2 separate regions of the Homo sapiens genome follow, and region 1 is linked to region 2. Evidence: fine-mapped expression QTL. Tissue or cell type: whole blood. Region 2 holds a variant in brackets; the other region holds the start of a gene. All regions are shown on one strand. Distances are from middle to middle. Region 1 holds the start of ZDHHC20 (zDHHC palmitoyltransferase 20). Region 2 overlaps ZDHHC20 (zDHHC palmitoyltransferase 20).

Region 1 (14,238 bases), 23 kb before region 2:
TTTTGGAGAGAGTCTTGCTCTGTTGCCCAGGTTGGAGTGCAATGGCGTGATCCCAGCTCACTGCAACTTCCACCTCCCAGGCTCAAGCAATTCTCCTGCCTCAGCCTACGGAGCAGCTGGGATTACAGGCGCCCCGCCACCATGCCCAGCTAATTTTTTTTTTTTTTTTTTGTATTTTTAGTAGAGATGGGGTTTTACCATGTTGGACAGGCTGGTCTCAAATTCCTGACCTGGTGATCTGCCCACTGTGGCCTCCCAAAGTGCTGGGCCCACAGGCGTGAGCCATCGCACCCAGCCCTAAGTAGCTTTCTTATTACCTTCTCCACTGCCACAAATCAAGGTCAGGCTAGCATCATCTCTTGCTCTACGACTGCAACGGCCTCCCAACTGGTTTCCTTGCCTCTAGACTTTCCTCCCTCCAATCTGTTCTTCTTACCACAGCCAGAGTGATTGTTATAAAATGTAATTCTGCTCACGTCACTACACTGCCTAAAGTCTTTAAATGATTCCCTGTTGTCAAAACCAGTAGCAAAGATGGAGTGAAATCACAAGCCCAACATGGAAATGGAAGGAAGGGGTTTAAGATACTGGCTTCTATTGCTCACAAGCAAAGAACATTAATTCATGTCTGTAACCATTTACGACAGAAAGAGTCCAAAATAATAAAAATATTGCCTCCTCAAAAATGTGTCTGTCCTCATTGTACAAGGACATAGATCAGAAATATTCTCTAGATCCCACATAAATCACCTTAGAATATGTGGCAGTCATTTAGAAATCAGAAACTGGTCGGGCACGGTGGCTCACAAAAAATACAAAAAATTAGCTGGGCGTGGTTGTGTGTGCCTGTAATCCCAGCTACTGGGGAGGCTGAGGCAGGAGAATCGCTTGAACCAGGGAGTCGGAGGTTGCAGGGAGCTGAGATTGCACCACTGCACTCCAGCCTGGCAACACAGCAAGACTCTGTCTCAAAAAAAAAAAAAAGAAAAAGAAAAAAAAGAAATCACAAGCTAATGTAATCTGGTTGGCAACGCCAGAAGTTAGGAGGAGTAACTGGATAACAATAGAAAACTTTAAATATTTGTTCAACAATTTCTTACTAAATATTTCCTACTGCAAGTCACTGTGGATGTGCAAGAAATACTTTCTACCTTCTAGAACCTTACAAGGTAGTAGGCAAGATCACATATTTCAATGAGTATCAAAACTATTGGCTGAGCGAGGTGGCTTAGGCCTGTAATCCCAGCACTTTGGAAGGCCGAGGCAGGCAAATCACTTGACTCCAAAAGTTTGAGACCAGCCTGGCCAACATGGGGAAACCCCATCTCTAGCAAAAATACAAAATGCAGGCCTCACGTGGTGGTGCACGCCTGTAATCCCAGCTACTCGGGAGGCTGAGGCATGAGAATCACTTGAAGCTGGGAGGTGGAGGTTGCAGTGAGCCAAGATCACGTGACCGCACTCCAACCTGGGTGACAGAGCAAGACTCTACTGAAAAAAAAAAAAAAAAGAATGTGGCCTTATTTGGAAGTGGGCCTGTTGTAGATGTAATTAGTTAAGATGAGGCCATACTAGAGTAGGGTAGGCCCTTAACCCAATATAAGGGGAGAGACAGGAAAGGAGAATGCCACCTGAGGATAGCGGTAGATATTGGGGTGATGCCACTGCCACTGCAGGTCAAGGGATGCCATGGACTAATGGTCACCACCAAAGGCTAGGAAGAAGCAAAGAAGAATTCTCCCCTACAAGTTTCAGAGGGCACATGGCTGTGTTAGGTCATTCTTGCACTGATATAAAGGAATACCTGAGACTGGGTAATTTATAAAGAAAAGTGGATTAATTGGCCCACAGCTCTCCAGGCTGTACAGAAAGTATGGGGTCAGCATATGCTTCTGGTGAGGCCTCAAGAAGCTTCCAATCATCAGTTGGAGACAACATTGGAGACAACAGCAACAGGAAGGTCCCTCTCACCTTCCTCTCGCTCTTCTCCCCTGAAGCAGGCCATAGCACTAGCAAAAGCGTCTCAGGCCTTCCCCTGAAGGCAGACCTAAGACTGTTATTCAAGAGGTGCCCTCCCTCTACCCAGACAAAGGAACATCCTTATCTCTGAAGACACAGGACCACAGAGATAGACTTCTGCCTTCTCGGCAGAAGGCAAAGGGGAGCCAGCATGTCACATGGCAAGAGAGGGGGCAAGAGAGAGAGTGGGGGAAGGATCAGGCTCTTTTAAATAACCAGATCTCATGTGAACTACTAGAGAAAGAACCCCTCATCCAAGGGGATGGCACTAAACCATTCATGAGGGATCCACCCTAATGATCCAATACCTCCCACCAGGTCCCACCTCCAACACTGGGATCACATTTCAACATGGGATTTGGAGGGGACAAACATCCAAACCATATCCAATATCCTTGCCAACACTTTGATTTGGGACACCTACCCTCCTAAACTGTGAGACAACCAATTTCTATTATTCCCCAGTTTTGTGGTACTTTGTTATAGTCACCCTAGGAAACGAATGTGACAGTTTTATAGTTAGGTTATAAACAAAATGTCGTGAAAGATCATTTCTAGCAGCCCTGGAGCTTGTAAAGGACATGGCTTTGTGCTGAGCTCTAGCAGCATGGTTTTGGTACGTAGAGATGACATAGAGGAGAAACGGCTTTATGTTCTTCCATGTCCATCCGAATTCTATGTTGAGGTCTAACCCTCCTAAGCAGCCTCTCTGGAAAACTAGTTGAACTTGAACCTAAACCTACTGTCAACTAGGCCACTAACTAATATGACTTTTAAGGCACAAAATCAGGGAGAACAGAATCTTTTATACATGCTTTATTACTCAAGCAGCAGTGTGCAGTGATTAAATACTTACTCGCTTTTACTACATTTCTCTGACACAGCAAAGGGTGACGTCTTCTTCATGGAGACTTTAGTGAGCAGTAGCTAATTTAAAGCTCAGTGTAGGCCGGTCGTGGTGGCTCACACCTGTAATCTCAGCACTTCTTTGGGAGGTGGAGGCGGAGAGGGGTTGGGATTCCTTGAGCCTTGGAGTTCAGGGCCAGCATGGCAACAGGGCGAAACCTAGTTTTTACAGAAAATACAAACATCAGCTGGGCATGGTGGCGGGCCTGTAGTCCCTGCTACTCTGCAGGCTGAAGCAGGAGGAGTGCTTTAGCAGGGAGGTCGAGGCTTAAATGAGCCCAGGTCGTGCCACTGCACTCCAGCTTGGGCGACAGAGCGAGAAGACCCTGTTTCAAAAAACAAACACAAAAATTCATTCTAACCAAAACTGAATGCTAGTAGCAGGAACTGGTATGAAGATTGCGGTCTGGAATCCCTTCTAATGCGTCTGACCTTGCATTGTGAAGTCTTCACAGTGATGCTTCTGGGTTCTATATGATTATCGTCATTGCTTAGCAACCTCTAGTTGTAAATAAATTCTTTAAATTTCCTTAGTCGTTTGCGGGGCAAGGAGAGGGTCATTTACATGCCCTTTCCTTCTCGCTACTCAATCTTAAATTTGGGTTACGAATCAAACTGATGGACCCTACATGGCTTCTACCCGAAATTACAGGTATCTACCGTTCCATCTTCAAGAAAGGGAGGGGTTCCGCCAAGATGGACGAACATAAAAATCACAGGAGGAGCCTTCTAACAATGTGCATTCTTCGCACACTGAGTGGGGAATGGCCTTGTCATGTTTGAAACAGTGCCCCAACTACTCAATGTCCCAGGAACCCCAGTGGAGCGAGTTCTGTACACAGAGAGGGCCAAGATCCACAAATCAGCTAAGGAATCATTTCCATAGTCTCCCTCCCCTATTGAGTCTCGATCCACAAAAGCTATCCCCTGTCCCTCTCATCCATCAAGGGCGTGTTTTTCGCCTCTCCTTCCCCGGCCTCCCGCGTCCGCCCAGCCTGTCCGCATCCAGCCCCGCCACGCCCCATGGGCGGTCCCGAGCTGCGGCCCCGCCCCCTCACCGCCTCCCCGGCCGCGGAAACCCCGCCCCAACGACGCGGAGACCGGGGGCGGCCCGCGGCCCGCGGCGGGCGGGCTGGCGGGGACGGACGCGGGGGGAGGGGGGCGACGGGATGTGGGGTGGGGGCGGGGCCTGGCTGGGCGCCGGGACGGGAGGAGTCCCGGCGGCGCCTCGGACTTTTGCTCCCACAAGTCCTGCCTCGGAGGCGGGGGAGCTGGACCAGCAGCCGCCTGGAGCGTCCGAGTCACCGTCGCCGGGGCTCCCGCGCTCCCCAGAACGGTGGGACGCGGGGCTCGGCAGCCGCCAGCGGAACATGGCGCCCTGGACGCTGTGGCGCTGCTGCCAGCGCGTCGTGGGCTGGGTGCCGGTGCTCTTCATCACCTTCGTGGTCGTCTGGTCCTACTACGCGTACGTGGTGGAGCTCTGCGTGTGTGAGTACCGTCCCCGGGGACTGCGGCGGGGCGCGGGCCGCGGCTAGGGCGCGAGATAGGCCTCTGCGCCCCACACCCGCCGCCTTTCTGGAGCCAGCGCCGGACGCCGGGCGTCCGGCCCCGAACGCGCTCGGAAGCGCCGAGGTTGCTGCACCCGCCGCTTTGTTCAATCCTGCGGCGCGGCCTTGGGGCGACCTGGGGCTCCTGAAGCCTTGCGGCGGCTTCCCGGGTGCAGGTCTGGCCCAGGGAGGCCCCAAGAGCTTCCTGGTTCCCGCCGACACCGGGGGTCTGCATCCTTCTGGGAAGGAACGTGCAGAACGGGAGTAGTCGAGCTTCTTAGAAGGTTTAGGTTGTGTTTGTGGCTTTTTTGGCTTTTGTTCATTTTTTTTAAAAAACCAAATCTGTTCCTTCTGGATTGTTTTTGTTCAAACTGCGCGAGAAGAAACGCCTGTTACCTGTAGAGCCGGCTGTGGCGGGTTGGGGGAAGGGAGGTGTGTCTTTTGGTGGCCTCGGGCTGGAGGCGGGTCAGACCTGGAGGACGAGTAAGCTCCCACTTTTGATTTTTGGTGGTACTCGACTCATTGTAAAATTCGTTTATTTCTACTCTGAATCCAGCCGGCTTTTGCAGAAGGTTAAGACAGAAAGAATGGGTGGGAGGAGACATAACCTGATTATTTTTTTCTTGGCTGATTATTAAGGAGGCTTATATTTCTTATACTCATATTTTGGCGTGTTAATTTTCGTTACTTCCATTTTCCTGATAAGTTCTTAGCACAAAATTCTCATCTGATTCCCTGGAAAAAAGGAGTAGCATTGCAGTATACTTCAAGGATTTAACCTACTGGCTTGAATTGGTTGCCTTTAAGATTGAAGGAAATTGGTTGTCATTAATCAAAAACACTGTTTAGGGGTGACTGCTACATTTGTGATATTGGGCAATTTCTCCAACATTGTTTTGTCTTAAGTAAATTGTTCTTAGGCTTTGAGTATGTGGGTATTTTACACTTAAACTGGCCTCAACTAGGGTGTTCTGTATACATCTGCTGCCTATATCAATTTTTTATGAAAACCTAGGACCAAATGGTAAGTGGTGTTTGTAAACGTTATTGTTATTCCAGAATGTTCTACTCTTAGTCCTTAGACTGAATCTACCATTTTATGAAGGACTGTTAAGTGTTCTTTGAATAACGAACCACATCAGCTAGAAACTAATGTTATGAATGAGAAGAATCTGTACCACCCACTCTTGAAAGTGGCAGAATCAAGACTTCAATTATGTTTGGATTTGTACAGCTTTCAACCAAGTATTTGGTTAAAACCCTAGTTCTATACATGGAAGAGAATGCTTTGGCTCAGAAAATTTATAAGTTTTGAAATTAAAACATCCAGTTTTAAAATTACTTTGTACCTATAGAACGTTTAATTTTGGGACGACTATCCCTGCAGGTAGGCCCAGAATAAATTAGTTGTGGAATACATTTCCAAATAATATTAATCTTTTCAATATCATTGTTTAGTCTCATGCTTTTGGATACCAGAATGTTTACTAAAAATGATGTTTGAGTCAATTAAAATTACTAGATTTTAATATTTCTGGGAGCTACTTCCAGAAAGTGGTAGTGATCATAGGATTCTCATCAACTTATGATGATACCTCCTTTATCTTCTTATTTACTCTGAAGTGGGCATTTATTCTAAAAGTTATGTCATTCCTATTCTGTCAGAAGATTATTCCTACCGTATTTTAATTCCCGTAGTGGTTTTGAAGTAAAGCTGAAGGAACACTAAAAATGTGCATTTATGTTGAGATTCCACAGCTTAACCTGTAGATGGTTTTTGTCAAAAATATTAAGAAATGAGATCAAACAGTGCTGTGAAAAGTCTTAAATTGCTTCTGATTTCTTTCACCACTTCAAATAAAGAAGGAGAAATGAACATGAATTGAGAAGTGCCATGTGCTAGTGGGCATAGAGGGGACATTTCATTCACCCTCTCCTTTAATTCTTTCAGTATGTCACAGCATAGGTATCTCTACAGGTGGAGGACGTGAGACTGAGCGAATAGGTCCTTTTGGTTAGGTCACACAATTGATTATTGGAATGTGACCCACATCTTTCCGTTCTTTCATATAACTTCAGTAAGCTATGAGGGTCAATGGAACTGTAATTGTTTGGTCCATAATGGTGTGGGGGGATAAAGGGGTTGGCATATTTTTGGAGATCACTTAGTTAGGCTTGAGGCCCATTCTGTAGAGATTATACCCTACAATTTCATTAAGTTAAAACATTCTATAACTATGGCCTGATGCTTGGCAGAATCTTAAAATATTTGGTGGTGAAAGGTCTTATGTAGAGGCTGTATTAACTTCTGAGTTATCTCATTTTAACTAGAGAGAATTTGGGAGGTCTGCAGTGTCACTGGAGTATAAAATAGTTGAGCATAAAAGTGCATTTACTCATATTAAAACTATCCTTTAAACTACTTGTATGTATTTGTTTTCATAAGTACTGACCCTCCCACTGAAATATGTATAGATATATTACTTTATAGGAGGACTTAAATGGAGGGAAGTGTGAGTTTTACTTAAAAGTGCTGTTTTAATACTTTTATAGGATATTCTTTTTATTTATATATGTATTTTTTGAGCCAGAGTTTCACTCTTGTTGCCCAGGCTGGAGTGCAATGATGCGATCTTGGCTCACTGCAACCTCTGCCTCCTGGGTTCAAGTGACTCTCCTGCCTCAGCCTCCCAAGTAGCTGGGATTACAGGTGCCCGCCACCATGCCCAGCTAATTTTTTTTGTATTTTTAGTAGAGACGGGGGTTTCACCTTGTTGGTCAGGCTGGTCTCAAACTCCTGACCTCAGGCAATCCACCCACCTTGGCCTCCCAAAGTGCTGGGATTACAGGCATGAGGCATTGTGCCCGGCCTATAGGATATTCTTAGATTCTGGTATTCTTTATCAAACTAGGAGGAGAAGATCATAATTATATCTTTACATGTATGTATTAATTCATTTAATCTTAATAATGATCCCCATAAGGTTAAGTAATTTGTCCACGGTTATAGAGCCAGTAAGTAGCATGGTAAGAATTGGAATTCAAGGGGTTTGGCTCCAAAGCCCATGCTGTTAACCACTATACAATTAATGACTAATCTATTTGGTGTCCAGATCTGGACACTCAGGGCAGATTTCAGTCCTGTATATGATATATTTATATAAAGTACTTTTCTCCTAAAAGGCAGCTGCAGAAGATTCCTAAATATCTCAGACAATAAAAATACCTGGCCCACAGTTGGCTGTAAGTTGAACAAATTGTTGATTACCAAGAGGCCCTCATTCCATCTTACCCTCTGTAACTTGCTAATTGTGTAATTAGACACACACACACACACACACACACACACACACACACACACCACTTCACTGGGAGTAATACTGAGGACAAAATTGAGGAAGAGGGTAATGCATGTAAAACGGCCATCTCACAGGAGTGATAAGCTGAGAAGCGAAGATTAAGTAATTAGTAATATTGGTCCTTGATTTTAAATTAGACTGAAATTCTCGTATGATTTTTTTTCCCCAGGGTTGATATTTAAAGTACGAATGGATTGAATAACTTCTTCTCTTTGGTCAAGGTGGTTATTTTTGAGGCAAGTGCTAATTCTGGTTCCCAAGGTTTTATCAGAATATCTTGTTGTTCAGGTCATCTTGTTAGTGGATGTGTACCTCTTCTTTGGCATGTAGAGAATCTTAGAACTTAAAGAGATTTTAAAGATAATCTCATTCAGTCCCTTTACTTCTGATGAAACTATTGCTCAAAAGAGCTATGTTGGCCAGGCGTGGTGGCTCACACCTGTAATCCCAGCGCTTTGGGAGGCCAAGGCAGGCGGATCACGAGGTCAGGAGATCGAAACCATCCTGGCTAACACGGTGAAACCCCATCTCTCTAAAAATACAAAAAATTAGCCGAGTGTGGTGGCGGGTGCCTGTAGTCCCAGCTACTCGGGAGGCTGAGGCAGGAGAATGGCATGAACCTGGGAGGCGGAGCTTGCAGTGAGCAGAGATTGCACCCCTGCACTCCAGCCTGGGCGACAGAGCGAGACTCTGTCTCAAAAACGAACCAACAAACCAACAAACAAACAAACAAAAGAGCTATGTTGTTTGTTCAAGGACAGGTATACCTTTTATATTTTTTTCAGACAAATTTGTGGAGTGGACTCTAACCTTTGAGTCTGTATTAAATATTTACTTGTGTCTCCTGCATAACTTCTTCAAATTTAGAGGCAGATTAAGATAAATAACTTAAGCACTATCATTGTACATGCTAGCTTGACACTGTTGATTCTGAAGTATTTTATTGATATTGAAAGAACCAGTTTTCTATTTCATTGATTTTTCTCTTTTCTGTTTTGTTGTTTTCCTGTCTGATCTTTACTATTTCCTTTCTTTTACTTTGGGTTTAATATGCTCTTTTTCTAGATTAATGTGGAAACCAAGGTCATTGATTTGAGCCCTTTCTTAGGTAGGTAGTCCTATAAATTTACCTCCAAATACTGCTTTAGTTTTATTCTATCAATTTTGATATGTTGTGTTGTGGTTGTCATTCAATTCAAATTATTTTCTTGGGCTGGGCACAGTGGCTCACCTCTGTACTACCAGCACTTTGGGAGGCTTGATGAAACCTCATCTTTTTGTTTGTTTGTTTTTGTTTTTGTTTTTGTTTTGAGATGGAGTCTCATTTTGTTGCCCAAGCTTCAGTGCAATGTGGCGATCTTGGCTCACTGCAACCTCCTCCTCCTGGGTTCAAGCAATTCTCCTGCCTCAGCCTCTTGAGTAGCTGGGATTATAGGCATGTGCCACCACGCCCGGCTAATTTTTGTATTTTTAGTAGAGATGGGGTTTTGCCATGTTGGCCAGGGTGGTCTTCAACTCCTGACCTCAAGCGATCCACCCACCTCGGCCTCCCAAAGTGCTGGGATTACGGGTGTGAGCCACCATGCCTGCCAAAACTCCATCTCTACAAAAAATACAAAAAATTAGATGGGCATGGTGGCTTGTGTCTGAAGTCCAGCCTACTCAGGAGGCTGAGACGGGAGAATACCATGAGCCCAGGAGTTCAAGGCTGCGTTGAGCCATGATTGTGCCATTGCACTCCAGCCTGGGTTACAGAGCAAGACCCTTTCCCAAAGAACAAACAAATCCTTTTATTTTGTTTTGTTTTAAGACAGTTTTGCTCTGTTGCCCAGGCTGGAGTGCAATGGCGCAATCTCGGCTCACTGCAGCTTCCACCCTTCAAAATTCAAATTATTTTCTAATTTCACTTTTGGTTTGATCTTTGACCCCATGGATTTAGTTTCCATTTATTTGGGGGTTTTCCAGATATCTTTCTGTTATTGATTTCAAATTTCCTTGTGGTCAGAGAACATACTTTGTATGACTTAAATCCTTTAAAATGTATTCAGGCTTGTTTTATAGCCCAGAATGTGGTCTGTCTGAGCTGTGTTCCATGTGTGCTTACGAAAAATATGTCTGTACTCAGCAATGTATTGTGCTGTTTGTTGCTGGGTGGAGTATTCTGTTATGTCATAATGCTCCATAAATGTCAGTTAAGGCAAGTTGGTAGTGTTATTCAAGTCCTCTATTTTCTTGCTTTCCTGTTTGTTCTCTCAGTTATTAAGAGAGGTATAACTATAATTGTGATTTATTTCTCCTTGTAGTTCTATCAGTTTTTGCCTCGTATTTTACATCTGTGTAATTAGGTGCATAAAACATTTAGGATTGCAATATCCTATTGACCAGTTGGCTCACTTAACATTATGAAGTGACTTTATTACCCCTGGTGATATTGTTTACTCTGAAATCTGCTTTGGCAGATATTAACATGGGCACTAATCTTTCTTTTAATTATTGTGAGCATGATGTATCTTTCTCTGTCCTTTTAATGTGTATGTGTCTTATATTTAAATTGTAATTCTCGTAAAGAGCATATATTTGGGTCTTTTAAAATCCAACCTGAAAATCTCTGCCTTTTAATAGGGGGTTTTGACCATCTACATTTAATGTGATTATTGATATAGGCTTAAGTCTATCATTTGCTCTTTTGTTTTATTGTCTGTCCTCTTCTTTGTTCCATTTTCTCCTTCTTTGACCTTCTTTTGAATTAATTGATCTTTACAATTTTTTTAATTTTGATTTTTAAAAATGATTCTATCTCCTTATTGGCATATTACTAGTAATTCTTTTTGTTACTTTATTGATTGCTTTAGGGCTTATAACATGTGTCTTTGAGTTATCACAGTCTACCTTCAAGTTACGTACTGTTTCATATATAATACCTTATAAAAGTATACTTCTATCTCTTCCATCTTGGCCTTTATGCTATTATGGTGCATTTTATATGTTGTAAACCTCACACTGTATTGCTACTATGTTTAAACAGTTGATTATATTAATAGTTTTTAAAGATTTAGGTTTAAAAAACCCAAAATATATGTATTTATTCCTATAGTTACCATTTCTAGTTCTCTTCATTCCTTTTTGTAAATCCATCTAGTGTCATTTCCTTCTGCCTGAAGGGCCTCTTTTAACGTTTATTGTAGTGCAAGTCAGCTGGACTGAATCATTTCAGTTTTTGTATGTTTGTAAAAGTTTTAATTTTGCCTTTAGTTTTTAAAGACAACTTGATCGAGACATAGTTTGCATGTCATAAAATTCACTAATTTAAGATGTACAATGCAGTTATTTTTAGTAAATTTGCCAAGTTTTGCAGTCATCACAACAATCCGTTTTTTGAAAATTTCTGTCGCACATTAAGATCCCTCATGCCCATTTACAGTTAATCCTTCTTCCCACCCCCAGCCCAAGGCAACCACTAATCCATGTTGTCTCCAAATGCCTTTTCTGAACATCCCATATAACTGGAATAATACATGCTTGCAACACATATACTAAAATTGGAAGAGTACAGAGAAGATTAGCATAAAAACCAAGAAAAATTTAAAAAGGGAAAAAAATAAATGGAATCATACAATAAGTGTTTTTTTGTTTTTTTTTTGGAGATGGAACTTCACTCTTGTTGCCCAGGGTGGAGTGCAATAGTGTGATCTCGGCTCATTGCAACCTCCGCCTCCTGAGTTCAAACGATTCTCCTGCCTCAGCCTCTCAAGTAGTTGGGACTACAGGTGTGTGCCGCCATGCCCTGCTAATTTTTTTTTGTATTTTTAGTAGAGACAGGGTTTCACCATGTTGGCCAGGCTAGTCTTGAACTCCTGACCTCAGGTGATCCACCTGCCTCAGCCTCCCAAAGTGCTGGGGTTTCAGGTTTGAGCCACCGTGCCCGGCCAATAAGTGGTCTTTTTTGTCAGGTGTATTTTGCATAGCATAATGTTTTTGAGGTTCATCTGTGTATTATGTATCAGTATTTCTCCCCTACTCTTCACTTCACATCCTAATTTGTATTTTTCTGTTTTCAAAACATATTCACAGTTTTATTTAGGAATATATTTCTAGTAAGCCTCCTCACATCATTTGTACATTGAATTAGAATATAAATTAAAAGTATGCACTTTCTTATATTTATTTATGTACCTGAATAATCCTGCTTACAAGACTTATAGTATAATTGGGTCCTGTTTGTTCTTGTATCCATTAGAGCCTAGTGCTAGTAGACTTTAAATTAATATAACTTGAATTGAATTGAATCATACTCTTGTAAACTCACTTGAATCGTGTTTGAATGTTAGGACACACAAACATCTAGAATAATAATACTAATTATAGTTACAAAACATGTATTTCACAATCTTTAGTGGTAAAGGCTACGTGAAATGGCTTATTGGTCCTACATACAGTCTTTGTTTTGGGTTATGAAACAGTGATTCTTTGAAATTATGCCGACATGGTTTAAAAAACCTATTTCCCTAAATCTTATCCTCAGTGGTTGGCATACTTATAGGAAAAGTTAAATGTGAATTAGAATTAAAAACAAAAAACTTTTGGCCAGGCATGGTGATTCATGCCTATAATTTCAGTACTTTGGGAAGCCCAAGTGGGAGGATTGCTTGAAGCCAGGAATTCAAGGGCAGTTTGGGCAACATAGCAATACCCTTTACAAAAATAAAATAAAAAATTAGCCAGGCATGGTGGTACCCACCTGTAGTCCCAGCTACTTGGGAGGCTGAAGCAGGAGGATTACTTGAGCCCAGGATTTCGAGGCTGCAGTGAGCTATGATCACACCACTGCACTCCAGCCTGAGTTACAGAGTGAGACCCTGTCTCCAAAAAAAAAAAAAACCACCTTTTTATTAATTTTATCATTTCGCATCTATTTTCAGATGCGAGAGTGTAGTAATTTTCTAGATAACTTGCCTTTGAAAGATACAGTGGCCAGAAGACCTGTTTATTTGAATTCTGCAGTTACCTTAGCCTTCTCTTTTACTTTTTGTTATTTTTGAAGAAAAAGTTTTTTTTCTCATGACTACTAGTGAGTTAATCTGTCCTGGTATTATTTTCTGTGTTACCAGATAGCATACTGGTCTGAGAGAGCTCTGTAAATATATATATTTAAAAACCCACCTAAAATCAAATGAAAAAAAAGATCTGTTTTATTTCCCCACATAAACTCAACCTTCTCTGGGGCTTCCCTGCTTTCTTGAAAGACAAGAAATGTGGAAGAGAAAGATGCTGGACAACCTAGAAACCAAGTCAGACTGTTCAGAAGAACCTTATGCCCTAGTCATGCAAGTAAAAGCCTGGCTGCTTCTCTGCCCGCTCCCTTTCCGGCAGAGAAGTAGTAGTATGCTGAATTCCGGACTCTAATCTGTTTACTTGACATCTCTGCTTGGAGATCTAATAGGCATTGTAGACAAAACTCTTGATTTTCTTTTTTTTTCTCCCTTGAACCTGCTGCTCCTAATAGCTCAGTAAATGACAGCTGTATCCTTCTACTTCTTGGGTTGAAAAGTCATTCTCCATCTGGATAATCAGCTTGTTCTGTCATTAAATGTCTAAAATCCAGCTGCTTCTCACCACTACTACTGCAACTGTTACACTCCTTTAAACCACCATGATCACTGCTTAGTGTAATAGATTGAAAAACATGACTATAATAATTTGCACCATCTGGGTGCAGTGGCTCACGCCTGTAATCCCAGCATTTTGGGAGGCCGAGGTGGGCAGATCACCTGAGGTCAGGAGTTCGAGACCAGCTTCATCAACGTGGCAAAACCCCATCTCTACTAAAAATACAAAAATTAGCACACACCTGTAATCCCAGGTACTCAGGAGGCTGAGGCAGGAGAATCGCTTGAACCCTGGAGGCAGAGGTTGCAGTGAGCTGAGATCATGTCACTGCTCTCCAGCCTGGGCCACAGAGTGAGACTCTGTCTCCAAAAAAAAAAAAAAGTATAATAATAATAATAATTTGTACCTTCTTCCATCAAGAAATAGTCTGTTTACCGCCCATTGAATCTGGGCTGGCCTTGTACTTGCTTTGGCCAGTAGAATGTGGTAGATATGTGAGTTCTGGAACTTAGGCCTCAAGACATCTTCTGCCTTAGCTCTTTTGGGACATTCCCGTCATCATGTAAGGAGTCCAGACTAGACTGCTGAGTGAGAGACCACATGGAGAAGAGGCCCAGCCAAGAGAAGCCAGAACCCCTAATGTGTGAACAAGGCGATTTTAGACTCCCACCCCATTCGAGCTGCCTGATGACTGCTATTAGTAGAGAAACATTCCAGCTGATCATAGCCCAAACTGCTGGCCCACACAATTGCAGGAAATAATGAACAGTGGTTGTTTATTTTTATTTATTTATTTTTTT
Region 2 (17,372 bases):
GTATCAGAAACGAAGACTAAACTACAAGATGCCCAAAGGTGAACAGATGTGATTGAAGATACAGTAAAGGCATAGAGGATAGAAATGGAAAAAGCCAAGAACCTGAAATCACGATAAAGGGAAAGGTAAAAGGATTGGAGGAAAAAATGATAGATATACAAGCTAGGCTGAGATTCATTATTATAATTCACCATCTTAATGCATCTAGTAAGAAAAATCATTATTTCCATATATACCAAAAAGGAATTTGAAAAGTCCAACACATCCATTCTTGATAAACAATAAAATAGGGATACATAACGTAAACAACGTAAACAAAATTTATGATACCTAACGTAAACAAAATTTATGTACACACAAAATACTTGATAATATTCCACTATAAAACCAGGAATAATGATACCTACTATGTCTATTACTTGGTAACATTGTATTGACGGAATTAATTACCACATTCATTCAAGAGAAGATAATCAGGAGCATGAGACTTTGGAAGAGGGAAAACTATTTCTGTGTGCAGATTATCTGATAGTGTATGTTGAAAAGCCAAGAGAATAACAACAGAAAACCCAGACAAAAAGAATTGAGTAAAACGGCAGAATAAAAAAATTAGCAACAAAACCCAATACTTTTTATATATACAATAATTTAGTTTGAAAATATAGTGGAAGAGGGCTGGGCGTGGTGGCTCATGCCTGTATCCCAGCACTTTGGGAGGCTGAGGTGGGCGGATCACGAGGTCAGGAGATCAAGACCATCCTGGCTAACACGGTGAAACCCTGTCTCTACTAAAAATACAAAAAAAAAAAAAAAAAAAAAAAAAAAGCCGGGCGTGGTGGCGGGCGCCTGTAGTCCCAGCTACTTGGGAGGCTGAGTCAAGAGAATGGCGTGAACCCAGGAGGCGGAGCTTGCAGTAAGTGGAGATCGCGCCACTGCACTCCAGCCTGGGCGACAGTGCTAGACTCCGTCTCAAAAAAAAAAAAGAGAGAAAAGAAAATAGAGTGGAAGAGAACTATCCATATCTGGTAACATCAAAAAGAGAAAATACCTTAGAAAAAAAAACAAGAAAAATGTCACATTCACAAGAGGAAAACATTCTTAAAAGACCCAAAATGTGACTTGAACAAATGGAAAGACATTTCATACTTTACGTTCATAGACAGAATAATTCAACATTACAAAGATGCCAGTTCTCCCCCAATTAATGTATAAATGAATTCTAATTCCAGTAAACATTTTTTTGTTTCTGGTGCTAGACAAGTGGATACCAGAGGTCTTATGGAAAAATAAGAAAGAATAAGCAATCAGGAAATCTCTGAAAAATTAAGAGCAATAAGTAGGGGAAATCCCCCAGATTTTAAACCAAAAAGCCTTATAATTAAAACTGTGGGGGCAGGAAGTATATGAGGAACTTTCTACTTTCTGCCCAATTTTGCTGTGAACTTAAAACTACTCTAAAAAATAGTCTCTCTCTCTCTTTTTTTTTTAAACTGTGTGGTCTGGTGCATGGACAGATGTATTGACTAATGGAACAGTATATAATGTCCAGAAATAGACTAATTAAAGAAATTTAGAATATTGTAAAAATAGCACATCAAATTACAGAGGAAAAGATGGGACAATTGGATACATATTTTCTAAGAGTAAAATCAGGTCCATACCTCATGCTATGTTTTAGTATAAAGTACAAATGGATAAAATCTTTCTTTTGTCATATATATATATACACACACACACACACACACTTTTTGTTTGTTTGTTTTTGGACAGAGTTTTGCTGTTGTCACCCAGGCTGGAGTGCAATGGCATGATCTCGGCTCACTGCAACCTCAGCCTCCCGGATTGAAGTGATTCTTGTGCCTCAGCCTCCCAAGTAGCTGGAACTACAGGCGTGTGCCACCATACCTGGCTAATTTTTGTATTTTTAGTAGAGACAGGGTTTCACCATGTTGGCCAAGCTGGTCTCAAACTCCTGACCTCAGGTGATCCACCCGCCTCGGCCTCCCAAAGTGCTGGGATTACAGGTGTTGAGCCACTGCACCTGCCGTATCTTAAATTTTTAACTTTTTATTTTAAAATAATTTGACTTTTGAAAAACAGTACAAACAATAGTCATATAACCTTCACCCACATTTTCTAAGTGTTACTATTTGTCATATGTGCTTTGTCATTCATTCATTCACTCATTCTCTCTCTGAAATGTATGAGAGTAAGTTGTAGAGCTAATGCCCCTTTACCTATGTTTACCTTTATTTCCTAAGAACAAGAACATTGTCTTTTTTTTTTTTTTTTTTTTTTTTTTTTTTCTGAGAAACAGTCTTACTCTGTCGCCCAGGCTGGAGTGCCATGGCGCGATCTTGGCTCACTGAAACCTCTGCCTCCTGGGTTTGAGCAATTCTTGTGCCTCGGCCTGTTGAGTAGCTGGGATTACAGGCGCATGCCACCAAACCTGGCTAATTTTTGTATTTTTAGTAGAGATGGGGTTTCACCATGTTGGCCAGGCTGGTCTTGAACTTGTGACCTCAGGTGATCCACCTGCCTCAGCCTCCCATATTGCTGGTATTACAGGCATGAGCCACCGCGCCTGGGAATTAGAATATTATATAACCAGAGTGCAGTTATTAAAATCAATAAATTAGTATTGATTAAATACTACTCTTTAATCTGTAGGCCTATTCAGACTTCATTTGTCCACTCAGTTCCTTGTTCTGCTCCACAGTTCAGTCTAGGATCACACATTGCAGATGTCATGTCTCTTTAGTGTCCTTATATTTGGAAGAGTTCTTCAGTCTTTATTTCATAATCATGATTTTTTAAGAGTACAGGTTTGTTTTACTTTGTTTTGTTTTGTTTTGAGACAGGGTATCACTCTGTCATCACTCTGTTGCAGTGCAGAGTGCAGGCTGGAGTGCAGTGGTGTGTTCGTGGCTCACTGCAGCCTAGACCTCCTGGGCTCAGGCAATCCTCCTGCCTCAGCCTCTTTAGTAGCTGAGACCACAGGCATATGCCACCATGCCTGGCTAATATTTGAAATTTTTGTAGAAACAGGGTCCCACTATGTTGCCCAAACTGGTCTCAAGTTCCTGGGCTCAAGCGATCCTCTTGCCTCAGCCTCCTTACGTGTTGGGATTACAGGCGTGAGCCACTGCACTCGGCCAAGGTTTATTTTGTAAATGTTCCTCAATTTAGGTTTATTTGATCTTTCCTCATGATTAGATTCAGAGAATTGCAGGCATACCTTGGTGGGAAAATTGCAGGTTTGATTTCATACCACCACAATAAAGCAAATATCAAAATAAAGCAAGTCATACAAGTTTTTGGTTTCCTACTGCATATAAAAGTTACGTTCACCCTATACTGTAGTCTGTTAAGTGTGCAATAGCATTGTGTCTTTAAAAAATACTTTTTGCTAAAAAAATGCTAGCAATTAGCAGTCACCTAAGCCTTCAGCAAGTCTTGATCTTTTTGCTGGTGAAAGGTCTTGCCTCGATGATGATGGCTGCTGACTGATCAGGGAGGTTGTTGCTGAAGGCTGGGGTAGCTGTGGCAATTTCTCAAAACGACAAGAACGAAGTTTGCCGCATCTGTTGACTCTTCCTTTCACAATATTTTTCTGTAGCATGTGATGCTGTTTGACAGCATTTTACTCACAGTAGAACTTCTTTCAGAAATTGGTATCAGTCCTCTCAAACCCTGCTGATACTTTATCAACTAAGTTTATGTAATATTCTAAATGGTTTTTGTCATTTCATCAGTGTTCACAGTATCTTCACCAGGTATAGATGCCATGTCAAAAAAACCATTTTCTTTTCTCTTCCATACAAAGCAACTCCTCGTCTGTTCAAGTTTTATCATGAGGTTGCAGCAATTCCATCACATCTTCAGGCTCTGTTTCTTATTCTACTTCTCTTGCTGTTTTCACCACATCTGCAGTCCCTTCCTCCACTGAAGTCTTGAACTGTTTAGTGTCATCCATGATCTTGGACTGGAATCAGCTTCTTCTGTAGTCCTGTTAATGTTGATATTTTGACCTCCTCCCATGAAAAACGAGTGTTCTTAATGGCATCTAGAAATGATGAATCCTTTCCAGAAGGTGATCAATGTAGTTTGCCTAGATCCATCAGAGGAATCACTGTGGCATCGATAGCCTTATGAAATGTATTTCTTAAATAAATAATAAGGCTTGAAAGTTGAAATGACTCCTTGATCCATGGGCTGCAGAATAGATGTGTTAGCAGGCATAAAAACAACATGAATCTCCTTGTACATCTCCATCAGAGTCCTTGGGTTTCAAAGTGCATTTTCAATGAGCAGTAATATTTTGAAAGGAATCTTTTTTCTGAGCAGTAGGTCTCAACAGTGGGCTTAAAATATTCAATAAAGCCGCTGGGTGCGGTGGCTCACGCCTGTAATCCCAGAATTTTGGGAGGCCGAGGCGGGCAGATCACGAGGTCAGGAGATCGAGACCATCCTGGCTAACATGGTGAAACCCCATCTCTACTAAAAATACAAAAAATTAGCCAGGCGTGGTGGCGGGCGCCTGTAGTCCTACCTACTTAGGAGGCTGAGGCAGGAGAATGGCGTGAACCCGGGAGGTGGAGGTGGCAGTGAGCTGAGATTGTGCCACTGCACTCCAGCCTGGGCGACAGTGTGAGACTCCATCTCAAAAAAAAAAAAAATTCAGTAAAGCATACTGTAAACAGATGTGCTGTCACCCAGGTTTTGTTGTTCCATTTCTAGAGCATAGGCAGAGTGGATTTAGCATAATTCTTCAGAGCCCTAGGGTTTTTGGAACGGTAAATGAGCATTGGCTTCAACTTAAAGTCCCCAGCTACATTGGCTCCTGAGAAGAGTCTCCCTATTCTTTGAAGCTGGACATTGACTTCCTCTCTCTGGCTAGGAAAGTTCTAGGTGACCTCTTCTTCCAATAAAAGACTGTTTCATCTGCAGCGAGCATCTGTTATTTAGTGTAGCCACTGATATGGCGTGGCTCTGTGTCCCCACCCAAATTTCACAGTGTGAAAATGGACTAATATAGCTACCTTCATCAATTATCTCAGCTAGATCTTCTGAATAACTTGCTGCAGCTTTTACATAAAAACTTGCTGCTTCGTCCTGTACTTTTGTGTTATGGAGATGGCTTATTTCCTTAAACCTCATAAATCAACTTCTGCTAGCTTAAGACTTTTTTCCTGCAGCTTTCTCATCTCTCTCAGCCTTCACAAAATTAAAGAGAGTTAGGACTTTGCTCTGAGTTAGGCTTTGGCTTAAGGGAATGTTTGTGGCTGGTTTGGCTCTCTGTCTAGAAAACTCAAACTTTTTTTGTATCAGCCTCATTGCACTTTCTTATTCATCTATTCACTGGAGTAGTACTTTTTTTAAAATTAATTTTTTTTATTATACTTTAAGTTCTAGGGTACACGTACACAACGTGGGCCAAAGTTAGTGCCACTCCACTGGAGTAGTACTTTTAATTTTCTTCAAGAACTTTTCCTTGGCATTCACAACTTGGCTAACTTTGGCCCAAGAGGCCTAGCGTTTATCCTGTCTTGGTTTTTAACATGTCTTTCTCACTAAGCTTAGTCATTTCTAGCTGTTGATCTAAAGTGACAGGTGTGTGACTCTTCCTTTCACCTGAACACTTAGAGGCCATTGTAGGATTATTAATTGGCTTGATTGCAGTATTGTTGTGTCTCCGGAAATAGGGAGGCCCAAGGAGACGGAGAGAGATAGAGGAATGTCTGGTCAGTGGAGTGGTAGAAACACCACATTTATTAAGTTTTCCATCGTATATGGATGCAGTTGGTGGTACTCCAAAACAATTACAATAGTAACGTCACAGATCACTGATCACAGAGCACCAGAGCAGATATTATGATAATGAAAAAGGTTGAAATACTGTGAGAATTAACCAAAATGTGACACGGAGACACAAAGTGAGCACAAAGTGTTGGAAAAATAGCACAGATAGACTTGCTTAATGCAGGGTTGCCACAACCTTCGATTTGTAAAAAACATAATGTCTGCAAAGCACAATAAATCAAAGCACCTTATGAGATGTGCCTATATGTATTTTCAGCAAGAATGTCACAGAAGTAATGCTGTGTCATTATAACATTTTGGGGACCATTAATGTTGATCAACACCCAAGGTAGTGTGTGCTATGTTTCTCCATTCTATAAAGGTACAGTTTTTCTTTGTAATTAATATTCTATTAGACCACCACATCACACGGATTCCTTTTTGAGGAAGGACTTGTTGCTCAGTTTTGGTCAGTGCAGTCAGCAGATAGCTTCCAGCACTTTCTGCATGACTCATATCACCCAAGGTCACACCCTTCCTGGTGCAGCTTGCACACAATGCCTGAGTGAGATGGGGTGGAACTGCCCACTTCAGAGCTCCCTGCCGGTTGCTGAAGCCAGGACTATATTGCAGTGAGATTGCTCCCTTAGCCCAATTATACCTCTTCCCCCTTCCTTTCACATATGCTGGTCCCTAGTAAATACATTGCACCCCAAACTCTGTCTTAGCATCTGATTCCAGAGAACCCAACCTGAGTCATTTCTTATTGGGAGACATTTTGAAACCCTGTGAATAATCTGTTTGTTATTACTTTCACTTACTCCTTTTAGCATCTATTGAGAATTCTTGCTTGAAACAGTTATTACTGTCCTGGTTGCCAAATGGTGGTTTTCTAATTCCATGATTTCTTCTACATTTACTAGTTAGAATTCTACTGTATGGAAGAGATTATCCTTCTCCCATTTACTTATTTATTGATTCACTCACATATATCAGCATGCACCGGCAAATTCTATTTTGTGAATTATAATCTAACACGTATTTTATTGTTCAATTTGTCCCAGATTTGGCCAGTAGGAGCCAGTTTCCATCTTGTTTCTGTGTGCTTTGATGTGTCCTTATTGTTTTTTTAGTACTTCCTTTCTTTCTGGCAATATATTTCAGCATTGTTTGATACTTTTCCTGCCCCTGGAATTGGTCATTTCAACAGGGACCAAGAATGAATATAAAAAATGGAAACATTCAAGCATTAGAAGAAAATATGGGTGGATGATCTTAAGGCAATGAGGAAAGCCTCTAACATCTCAGAATCACCAAGCACAATAGAAAAAACAAACAAACAAAAAAGTAAGCAGATGTTTCACAGGAAAAAAAAAATGAAAATGACACATAAGCATAAGAAAAGATACTGACCCTCACTTATAAGATAAATACGAGGTAAAATTATCCTGCCATACCAAAAGATTGAAAACTTCATTGAGTAGACTGCAGAGAAACAGTCAGTTTCATTCATTGCTGGTAGAAGTATAAAATGGTACAACCCGTATAAAAGGGTTTTTGCAAAAAGCTAAAGACATGGTGGACAGATTTACTTTTGGTTCAGTAATCCCACTGTTAGGAATCTACACTGAAGATAAACTTCCACAAATAAACAACACATGCACAAGGTTATTTATTGCAACATTGTAGTGGCAAAGGATTGGCGACAACACAGATGCCCATCAATAGAAGGCTGATTGTATAACTGGAATATCCACACAACGGAATATTGTGCAATGCTTTAAAAAAAAAAAAAGGATGTCTCTGTGTGCTAATGGGTAGCGATTTCTAGAATTTGTAGGACATTTCACAAGACATCTGGCCTGATCTTTTCAAAAAGTCATCATCATATGGATTTAGGGAAGATGGTGGTAATAGTACATTATTTTTGAGTCACTCCAAATCACTGCATAAAAACAGAACATGAACAGTATCTGTAGCAAAACTAGTTTGCTAGAGAATGACAATGAGCTTCAGACAACCAAATTGACTGCAGAGATACAAATTAAACTCTAATATGAACATTAAATATTTATTTTCTTGTGGACCCAAGACTAAGACTAAATGAGGAATAATGTTTGTAATGGATACTATATGCTTTAACAATTTTGATTCAGCACAACTACTAGAGAATGGAGAGAGAATATATGAAAAAATTATTCAAACTTTTAAGTAATCATATTACTGGCAGTGTTATTGTCATTATCTCGAGATTATTGGGTAAGCAATATGGGGTATTCTAATTCTTCATCCCTTGTGTCCTTGAGAACCAGAATTCTCAATGGAAAAAGGAGATACAAATGTGAGATAGAAGATGTTAAGTAAAAACCCTGTAGACTTTAATTTTAATTGGAAATATCGGTATCAACTTATCAGGTATTTAATCTTCCTTTTAAAATGGTGTGCACGCACACACACAGACACACAGACACACACACACACACACGTAGGAAAGGAAAACAAACCCTGTTGATTACCAGACTAGTCATTTATGTAGAAAATCCCAAAGAAACTGCAAACAAGCTACTAGAACCGAAAAGTGAATTGAGCCAGCATACAAGGTCAATAAAAAAACTAAAACATATTTCTAAATACTATTCTATAGCAATGAGTAATTAAAATTGGAATTTTTAGAAATGCTGTTTATAATAGCATCAAAAACATGAAATATTTTAGGGATAAGTCTAATAAAATATGTGCAAGATTCTGTGTGATAGAGAAAATCTAAAATGGAGAGCTACGCCATGGTCATGGGCTGTAAGACAATATTTCAAAGACATTACTTCTCCCCAAGTTGATCTGTAAGTTCAGCCAGTCAAAATCCAGGCATCAGCCAGCACTGGATCTCCCAGAACAAACAAACAAAAAACAAAACCAGGCAGATTTTTGTTTGTGAATTCCCGCCTCCCACCCCCACCAGATGGAGTCTTGCTCTGTCACCCAGGCTGGAGTGCAGTGGAGTGATCTCGGCTCACTGCAAGCTCCGCCTTCTGGGTTCACGCCATTCTCCTACCTCACCCTCCTGAGTAGCTGGGACTACAGGCACCCGCCACCACGCCCGGCTAATTTTTTGTATTTTTAGTAGAGATGGAGTTTTACTGTGTTAGCCAGGATGGTCTCGATCTCCTGACCTCATGATCCGCCCGCCTCAGCCTCCCAAAGTGCTGGGATTACAGGCATGAGCCACCATGCCTGGCCTTGTTTGAGTATTTTTTTAAGGAAATCAATAAGATGAGTTTAAAATTTACATGGGCCAGACACAATGGCATGCAAGCTGTCTAGCTACTCAGGAGGCCTATAGTCCTAGCTACTTGGGAGGCTGAGACAGACAGACTGCTTGAGCCCAGGAGTTTGAGACAAGCCTGGGCAATACAGCAAAATCCTGTCTCTAAAAAAGGTAAAAATAAGTAAGTATTTATATGGAAATGCAAACCTAAAATAGCCAAAATACTTTTGAAAAATAATAAGTTGGAGGACCCATACTATCTGATTTCAAGATTTACTGAAAGCTATATGTAATCAAGACTGTAGTATCTGAGTAAGAATGGACATATAGACCAGTGGAACAAAATAGAGTTCAGAAATAAACCCTTACACGTATAGTCAGTTGATTCCCATAAGAAAATTCCAGGTTAATTTAATGAAGAACAAATAGTTATTTCAACTAACACTGTAAGAACTATTCACCATTCATATGTAAAAAAATTAACCTCAACCTTTACCTGTACCATATACAAAGTATCAACTTTTTAAAATGGATTACATGGGGGGGCATGGTGGGTCACACCTGTAATCCCAGCACTTTGGGAGGCCATGGTAGGCGGATCAGTTGAGGTCAGGAGTTCAAGACAAGCCTGGCCAACATGGTGAAACCCTATCTTTATTAAAAATACAAAAAAGTTGTCCAGGAGAGATGTCTCATGCCTGTAATCCCAGCACTTTGGGAGGCCGAGGCAGGTGGATCACGAGGTCAGGAGATCCAGACCACCTTGGCTAACATGGTGAAACCCCATCTCTACTAAAAAACACAAAAAAAATTAGTCAGGCATGGTGGTGGGCGCCTG[C/T]AGTCCCAGCTACTCAGGAGGCTGAGGCAGGAGAATGGTGTGAACCCAGGAGGCAGAGCTTGTAGTGAGCCGAGATCACGCCACTGCACACCAGCCTGGGCTACAGAGCGAGACTCTGTCTCAAAAAAAAAAAAAAAATTAGTGGGACACTGTGGTGCATGCCTTTAGTCCCAGCTACTTGGGAGGCTGAGGCAGGAAAATGGCTTGAACCAGGAAGCGGAGGTTTTAGTGAGCTGAAATCGCACCACTGCACTCCAGCCTGGGCGACAGAGCGAGATTCTGTCTGAAAAATAATAAAATAAAATATGAAATAAAATGAGAGCAAGACTCTGTCTCAAAAATAATAAAAAATATGAAATGATATAAAATGAAAATGAAATATATTACAGACCTAAATATAAAACCTATAAAACTTCCAGAAGAAAACATATGAGAAACTGTGACTTTCATAGGTTGGCAAAGATTTCCCAGGCATGAATGATAAAAGAAAAAAATTGATAAATTAAATTAAGACTTCATCAAAATTAAGAGTTTGTGCTCTTCAAAAGACACTGTTAAAAATATAAAGAGGCAAGTTATGGCCTAGGAGAAAATATTGGCACACACATATCAAGATTTGTATCCAGAATATATGAAGAACTCATGACTCAATAAGCAATACAGTTAAAAGAGGGGCACCATTGAACATATAACTTCACAAATAAGGGATAGTGATTGTTAAACACATGAAAAGATGCTGTAGTTATTAGAAAAACACAAAAGTGAAATGAAGATACCACTGCATATTTTTTAGAACAGCTAAATTTTAAAAACTGTCAATTCTAAGTATTGGTGAGGATGTGGAGCAACTATAACTCTGATCCATTGTAAGTGGAAGTGCCAAACACTTTGTGCCAAATACAGCCACTTTGAAAACAGTTTGGCTGTTACTGGTAAAGTTAAGCACATATTTAACATTAGACCCAGCAATCCCATTTTTAGATATTAAGTAATGAAAATTGATATTGTTTGGCTGTGTCCCCATCCATATCTCATCTTCAGTTGTACTCCTGTAATTTCCCCTGTGTTGTGGGAGGGACCCAGTGGGATATAATTTGAATCATGGGGGTGGTTTCCCCCATACTGTTCTCGTGGTAGTGAATGAGTCTCAAGAGAGATCTGATGGTTTTATCAGGGGTTTCTGCTTTTGCATCCTCATTTTCTCTTGCCTCCACTGTGTAAAAAGTGCCTTTTTGCCTCCAGCCATAATTCTGAGGCCTCCCCAGCCATGTGGAACTGTGAGTCCAATTAAACCTCTTTTTCTTCCTAGTCTTGGGTATGTCTTTATCACCAGCGTGAAAATGGACTAATACAAAAATATTATGTCCACCCAAAGGCTTGGTGAATACACGAGTAATCATAATAGACAAAAAGGTGAAATCACTCAAATGCCTATGAACTGATTAATGGATAAAGTTGTCATACCTCCATATAACAGAATGCTATTCGGCAGTAAAAGGACAAGCAGGGACTTCCAGTTCTGAGACAAGATGAAATAGAGACTTCTTCCTTTTCTTAGTAAGTACAGCTAAAATCCATGGAAAGTGTGCAGAAAACAAACCTGAGGAGACTCTGAAAGGTATCAAGAAGAAGCCAGATCAGCTAGGGACCTTGCGACCTGAGGAATAACATGGTGGTGTGTTCCCTAGATTTTTTTTTTCTTCATATATGTGCTAGAGAAGCTGTCAACCTGGAAACACCAATGAATACAGACCAAAACAAACCCTAGAAAAGACCAGTTTTATTAGTCAAGCCAGGAAAGGGACAACCTAGTAAGACAGAAAACTTGTAGACAATAACTGCCCTACTCTAGCCAAAAACAATAGACAAACTGTGCTCCATCCCCCACTCTCACCAGCAAAGACTGAGTATTGAGCTTAAGACCTCTCCTGCTTGCCCAGCTGTAACAAGACCCCCCTCCTGTGTCTCTTCCCCAGTATTCCTGCTGGGATAGTATCAGAAAAGGTGAAGCCCTAGTCAGGAGCCTAGATTTTCATTCCCACTGGGCAGTAATGATGTGTCCCTTCCATCCCCCCACCCCAAACAGTAACAAGTTCCCTCTCATGGTGTCAATGGAGGCTATCTGGGAAGCACTAAGGAGGCACCTCTACCCTTCCCAGCCAAGATATGTGTGCAGAAGCCTAGCAGGGAGCTGGGACTTGGACTCCCACCTGATGGCAACAAGGTGGTGCTCCCACATCTCTCACTGCACGGAGTCAGACGAGGCCTGCAAAAACAAATTTAAATAAGATCTAGAGTCTCAGCATAATACTAAAACATTTCAGGATACAATTGAAAACCATCCATCCTACCAAGAACCAGGAAAACTAAATGAGAAAAGAGAATAGATACTAAAACCAAAAAGACACAGATGTTGGAATTACTTGACAAGGACTTTAATGCAGCTATCTTTAAAGTGATTCAATTTGCTATTGAATTATGAAAAAATAGAATTCTCAACAAAGAAATAGAAGATGTAAAGAACCAGATGGAGATTTTTAAACTGAAAATACAATAGCCAAAATTTTAAAAAGTCAACTGAACAGCAGAATGGAGAGGGCAGAGAAAAAAAGTGAAGTGAATGAACTTGAAGATAAAACATTAGAAATTACCCAATCTGAACAAAAGAGAGAAAATATACTGAAAAATAAAAATGAACAAATCATCAGGGACTTGTGGGACTATTTTTAAAAGTTCTAATATTTGTACCATCAGAGTCCCAGGGGAGAAGAAAGACGATATGGTTGAAAAGGTATTCAAAGAAATGATAGCTTAAAATTTTCAAACTTGGCGAAGGACATATTCAAGAAGAACTTAAGAAGTTCAGCAAACTCTGAACAGGAAAATCCCAAAGAAATCCACTCCAACATACATTATAACCAAATTTCTGACCACTAAATATAAAATCTTGAAAACAGTGAGGACACTTTACCTATAGGGGAAAAACAGAATAACAGCAGATTTGTCATCAGAAACCGTGGAATTTAGAAGGAAGTAGTACATATTTAAAGTACTGAATGAAAAGAACTGTCAACCCAGAATTCTATATCCAGCATATAACTGGCCCATCAAGGTTGAAAGTTGACAGTTGTACATTCAGATAGCACATCCTCACATTATAAGAATTCAAAGCAAAAACAGGATAAAGGAAATAATAGAGCTTCTTTCTCACGTGCTTCTCACTTGTTAAGGAGGGCAAAAAAATTTTTTCCCAGTGACAGTTTTTCCCTCCCTCAAGATGTATCCATTTGCAAGAACTGGATCCCATAGCCATAGTAGATACAAGTATACTGATAAAGTGAGTATCTGATATTTTCAGGCTCAATAAGTGGGAGACAGGCAAGAAAAGGGGGCAATGAAGTGAAGAATAGGACATAGCCAGCCCTCATGTTCACAAAGAACCATAAATTAATGTTGTCTCTAAATGAGGTTAGTGTCATTGACAAGATTGAAAAATGACATTTCTTACATAAAAAAATGTATAAACATTTAGTGTGCCTAATAATTTTTGTTGTTGTTGGGTTTTTTTGTTGTTGTTTTGTTCTTTTGTTTTGTTTTATTTTGTTTTGTTTTTGAGGCAGAGTGTCACTCTTTCACCCAGGCTGGAGTGCAGTGGTGTGATCTTGCCTCACTGCAACCGCCTCCCAGGTTCAGGCGATTCTCCTGCCTCATCCTCCTGAGTAGCTGGGACTACAGGCGCACGCCACCATGCCCAGCTAATTTTTTGTATTTTTAGTAGAGATGGGGTTTCACCATCTTGGCCAGGCTGGTCTTGAACTCCTGACCTCGTGATCCACCTGCCTCAGCCTCCCAAAGTGCTGAGATTACGGGCATGAGCCACCACGCCCAGTCCTAATAGTTTTTATAAGCTTGGTTTTGTCATCAAAAGAATTTTTAAAAAACATAGTTTGGGCCTGGGTGCGGTGGCTCACGCCTGTAATCCCAGCACTTCAGGAGTCCAAGGCAGGTGGATCACGAGGTCAGGAGATCAAGACCATTCTGGCCAACATGGTGAAACCCCGTCTCTACTAAAAATACAAAAATTAGCCAGGCATGGTGGCGTGCACCTGTAATCCCAGCTACTCGGGAGGTTGAGGCAGGAGAATTGCTTGAACCTGGAGGGTGGAGGTTGCAGTGAGCCAAGATCACGCCACTTTACTCCAGCCTGGGTGACAGAACAAAACTCTGTCTCAAAAACAAAACAAAACAAAAAAGAAAAATATATTTTGGGATCCCCATAAAAAGGAATAGCCTCGTCTCACTGAGAGAGGTTCTGCAGATTGCTGTTCCCAGCCATGTCTTTGTCTCTGTAGTTAGAGGTGCCATTAGCAAATATTAAGAGTGTGTTCCATGCCGTACACTGTTTCAGATGCTGGTGAAAAAGTCATGTCCTCTACCTCCAGGAAAAAAACCTAGGAGGAACTATGAACTGTAAACCAGTAATTACAAGTGTCAGGGGTGTTATGAAAGGGAAAGTATAAAGTGTTGTAGGAATATATACCGAGATTTATTTAACCCATTCTGTGGTCAGGAAAGTCCTCTGTGAAGAAGTGATTCTAGCCATTGTTGGTTTGGTTTTTTTTTTTTTTTTTTTTTGAAACAGAGTCTAGTTCTGTTGTCCAGGCTGGAGTGCAGTGGTGCAGTCTTGGCTCACTGCAACCTCTGCCCCCTGGGTTCAAGTGATTCTCCTGCCTCAGCCTCCCGAGTATGTGGGACTATAGGTGCATGCCACCATGCCTGGCTAATTTTTGCATTTTTTAGTGCAGACGGGGTTTCACCATGTTGGTCAGGCTGGTCTCGAATTCCTGACCTCAAGTGATCCACCCATCTCAGCCTCCCAAAGTGCTGAGATTACAGGCGTGAGCCACCGTGCCCGGCCTAGCTTTGTTTTTATATGAAGCAGTTTTATTGTTCCCTGAATATCTTGGTGAGAAGCTGAAAGAGACAACCGCTGGAAACTATTAGCTAGATGTTATTTTAAATTCAGATTTTCTACTTGGAGGAGGGTGATAACACAGTATATTATCAAGTTTTCATCCTTACCAGTAGTCTGAACAGACTTTTAGTTCAAATCCCATCTATACTACATATACTAGCTCTGTGACCTTAGGAAGGTCATTTAATTATTTTGAGCCTTAGTTTACTTATCTGTAAAATGGAGCTAATGATAACTTGCAGGGTTGTTACTATTCTAAGACATGATTCCACACTTCAAGGAGCATTTATTCCAGTAAGGTGAGACAGACATATTGACAAGTAATTGAAAAAATAAAAAGAAAAAAAGAAAAATGAGATGGTGTGGTAAAGATGGAAGAGTGATCAGTGGTGATATAAAGGAGTGATCTACTCTGGCTAAAGAGGGACTCAGGAAGACTTTACAGAGGAGTATTCAAAACGGGCCTTGAAGGGTGAATAGACAAGGTACATGGCACATATGAAACAGCTTGATGCATTTGGGAAACCACAATTTGTTTAGAATAATTACACCAGAAATATGGGCAAATGACAGAAGAAACTAGAGAGGGCCTGGCGCGGTGGCTCATGCCTGTAATTCCAACACTTTGGGAGGCTGAGGTGGGCGGATTCACTTGAAGTCAGGAGTTCGAGACCAGCCTGGCCAACATGGTGAAAACCCATCTCTACTAAAAATAACAAAAATTAGCCAGGCGTGGTGGCACTCACCTGTAATCCCAGCTACTCGGGAAGCTGAGGCAGGAGAATCACTTGAACCTGGGAGGTGGAGGTTGCAGTGAGCCAAGATTGTGCCACTGCACTCCAGGCTGGGCAACAGAGCTAGACCCTGTCTCAAAAAAAAAAAAAAAAGAAAAGGAGAAAAAAAGGAAGAAACCAGAGAGGTAGACAGATTGTAGATTACAGAGGGCTTGTAGTGTTTGCTACCCTGAAGATTTTGGACTTCATTCTGAAAGTGACTCACAGGTATTGAAGAGTATTCATCAGATTTGCTAGTGGTGGTGGTGTGTTACACTGACTGCAGGAAGATGCCTTAAGCTGTTGCATTTGAGGAAGACAGTGGGGAGGGACTGAAGAATAGGTGACATATTATAAAGAGACTTAGATAGTAGAACCAACAGGACTCGAGGCCATTGAATTATCCAGGAAGAAAGAGTAAATAGCAGTTCACAGGGTTTCAGGCTTGGTAGACTGAAGTGGTTGTTGGCTTTATTCATCACAATAGTAATACAAGGTGGAAGAAAACATAAGAGAGGTAGACACTGAATTACCTTTTCTGTGCGTAGTCTGACTTCTTCAGTATTTGATTATTCAGAGGAAAAAAACACTAAAAATTAGCAGGGTAAGTTCCTCTACTTTTTTCTTTAGAAAAATACATTTGTCTTGAGTATAGATTCACAAAGAGGTTGATAAGAGTACATCACAGACTAACAAATAAGTTATGGGGGTCATAGAGGACAGTTCTGTTCATTCTGCAGATATCATTAAGGAAAGAGCTAAAGAAAACATTGCAGCTATAAACATGTTGATACACTTAAAATTAATAAAGTTCTGAAAACATTTAGTGTGACTGTAGCGTTAATGATAAAGAATTTGGATTTTAGTATTTTAATGGTTTTGGAGTTTTTTAAGTGCAATTTTGACTTTGCATTAGTGTCTACAATTTATAACTAAAGTTTATTTTTTTGAAAATGATATTAAGATGAATATTCAACCTGAAATAAAACTTACATACAAAATGTTTAAAGTATATTTATTCACTATTTTTTCTTCTATTCTAGTTACTATTTTTGGAAATGAAGAAAATGGTAAGGCACTTTTAGTTTCAATTTAAGTTAAATGCTTAATGATATTTTAATTGGAACATACTTTTTATTTAGTGATGAATGCATGTGTTTTTGTTTTTTAGAAATAAAATCCCTATCTTTACATTTTAAGTAATTAAAAGGAGATCTAGTAATGGGGTTATTTCCAGACCAAGACATTTCATGTATTCTCATTTTGTGTTATTTATGTAAATTAAAGTAGACATTATTTTGTACAACACCTAGTACTCAAACTTCTTTGTGTATTTATATAAATATTTGTCTCATATGTTCTTCAAAACTTTTTATTTAGATTTTTTTAATATGAGTTCTAGCTAGGTTGAGGAGACAATTCTGCTTTCATGATGTCTAAATTTTATTGATGGTTCTCGTTTAGGCATTTGTTAAAATCGCAATTTACAATGCACAGATATTTAAGAAAATAACCAGACTGTAAATTTGTAAATTGCATTACCAGTTTAAGGAAGCTAAAGTTTTTATAACAACTAAGTAAAAAAGATAGTGCCCAGAGGGAAAAATCATCTCTCAAAATTTCACTGGGATAAAAGCAAATTTCATAAGTCTGTTGAGATTAAATTTAAACAAAATTTAATTGGGCATACAAAACTCCAGAGGATTTCTAAAATACTTG

What was found. PIP is the estimated chance that this variant, and not a neighbour inherited with it, causes the effect.
Region 1: it holds the start of ZDHHC20, and the variant in region 2 is fine-mapped to the expression of ZDHHC20 in whole blood (INTERVAL, PIP above 0.99).

What each region holds. Positions count from the first base shown.
Region 1 is chr13:21,449,229-21,463,466 of GRCh38, reverse strand. It overlaps ZDHHC20 (zDHHC palmitoyltransferase 20), which reads left to right and starts at 4,164. Exons shown (of 13, transcript NM_001330059.2): 1 at 4,164-4,413. The coding sequence starts at 4,296. LOC124903131 (a long non-coding RNA gene) reads right to left here and starts at 3,920. Exons shown (of 2, transcript XR_007063713.1): 1 at 3,288-3,920; 2 at 2,821-3,084. RefSeq lists a cis regulatory region at 3,923, an enhancer at 3,839-4,008 and a silencer at 3,872-4,251.
Region 2 is chr13:21,425,003-21,442,374 of GRCh38, reverse strand. ZDHHC20 (zDHHC palmitoyltransferase 20) reads left to right here. Exons shown (of 13, transcript NM_001330059.2): 2 at 16,697-16,723. Among named protein-coding and RNA genes, the nearest start is that of ZDHHC20, 26 kb to the left of the region's middle. The variant C/T (reference allele first, on the strand shown) is at 9,906.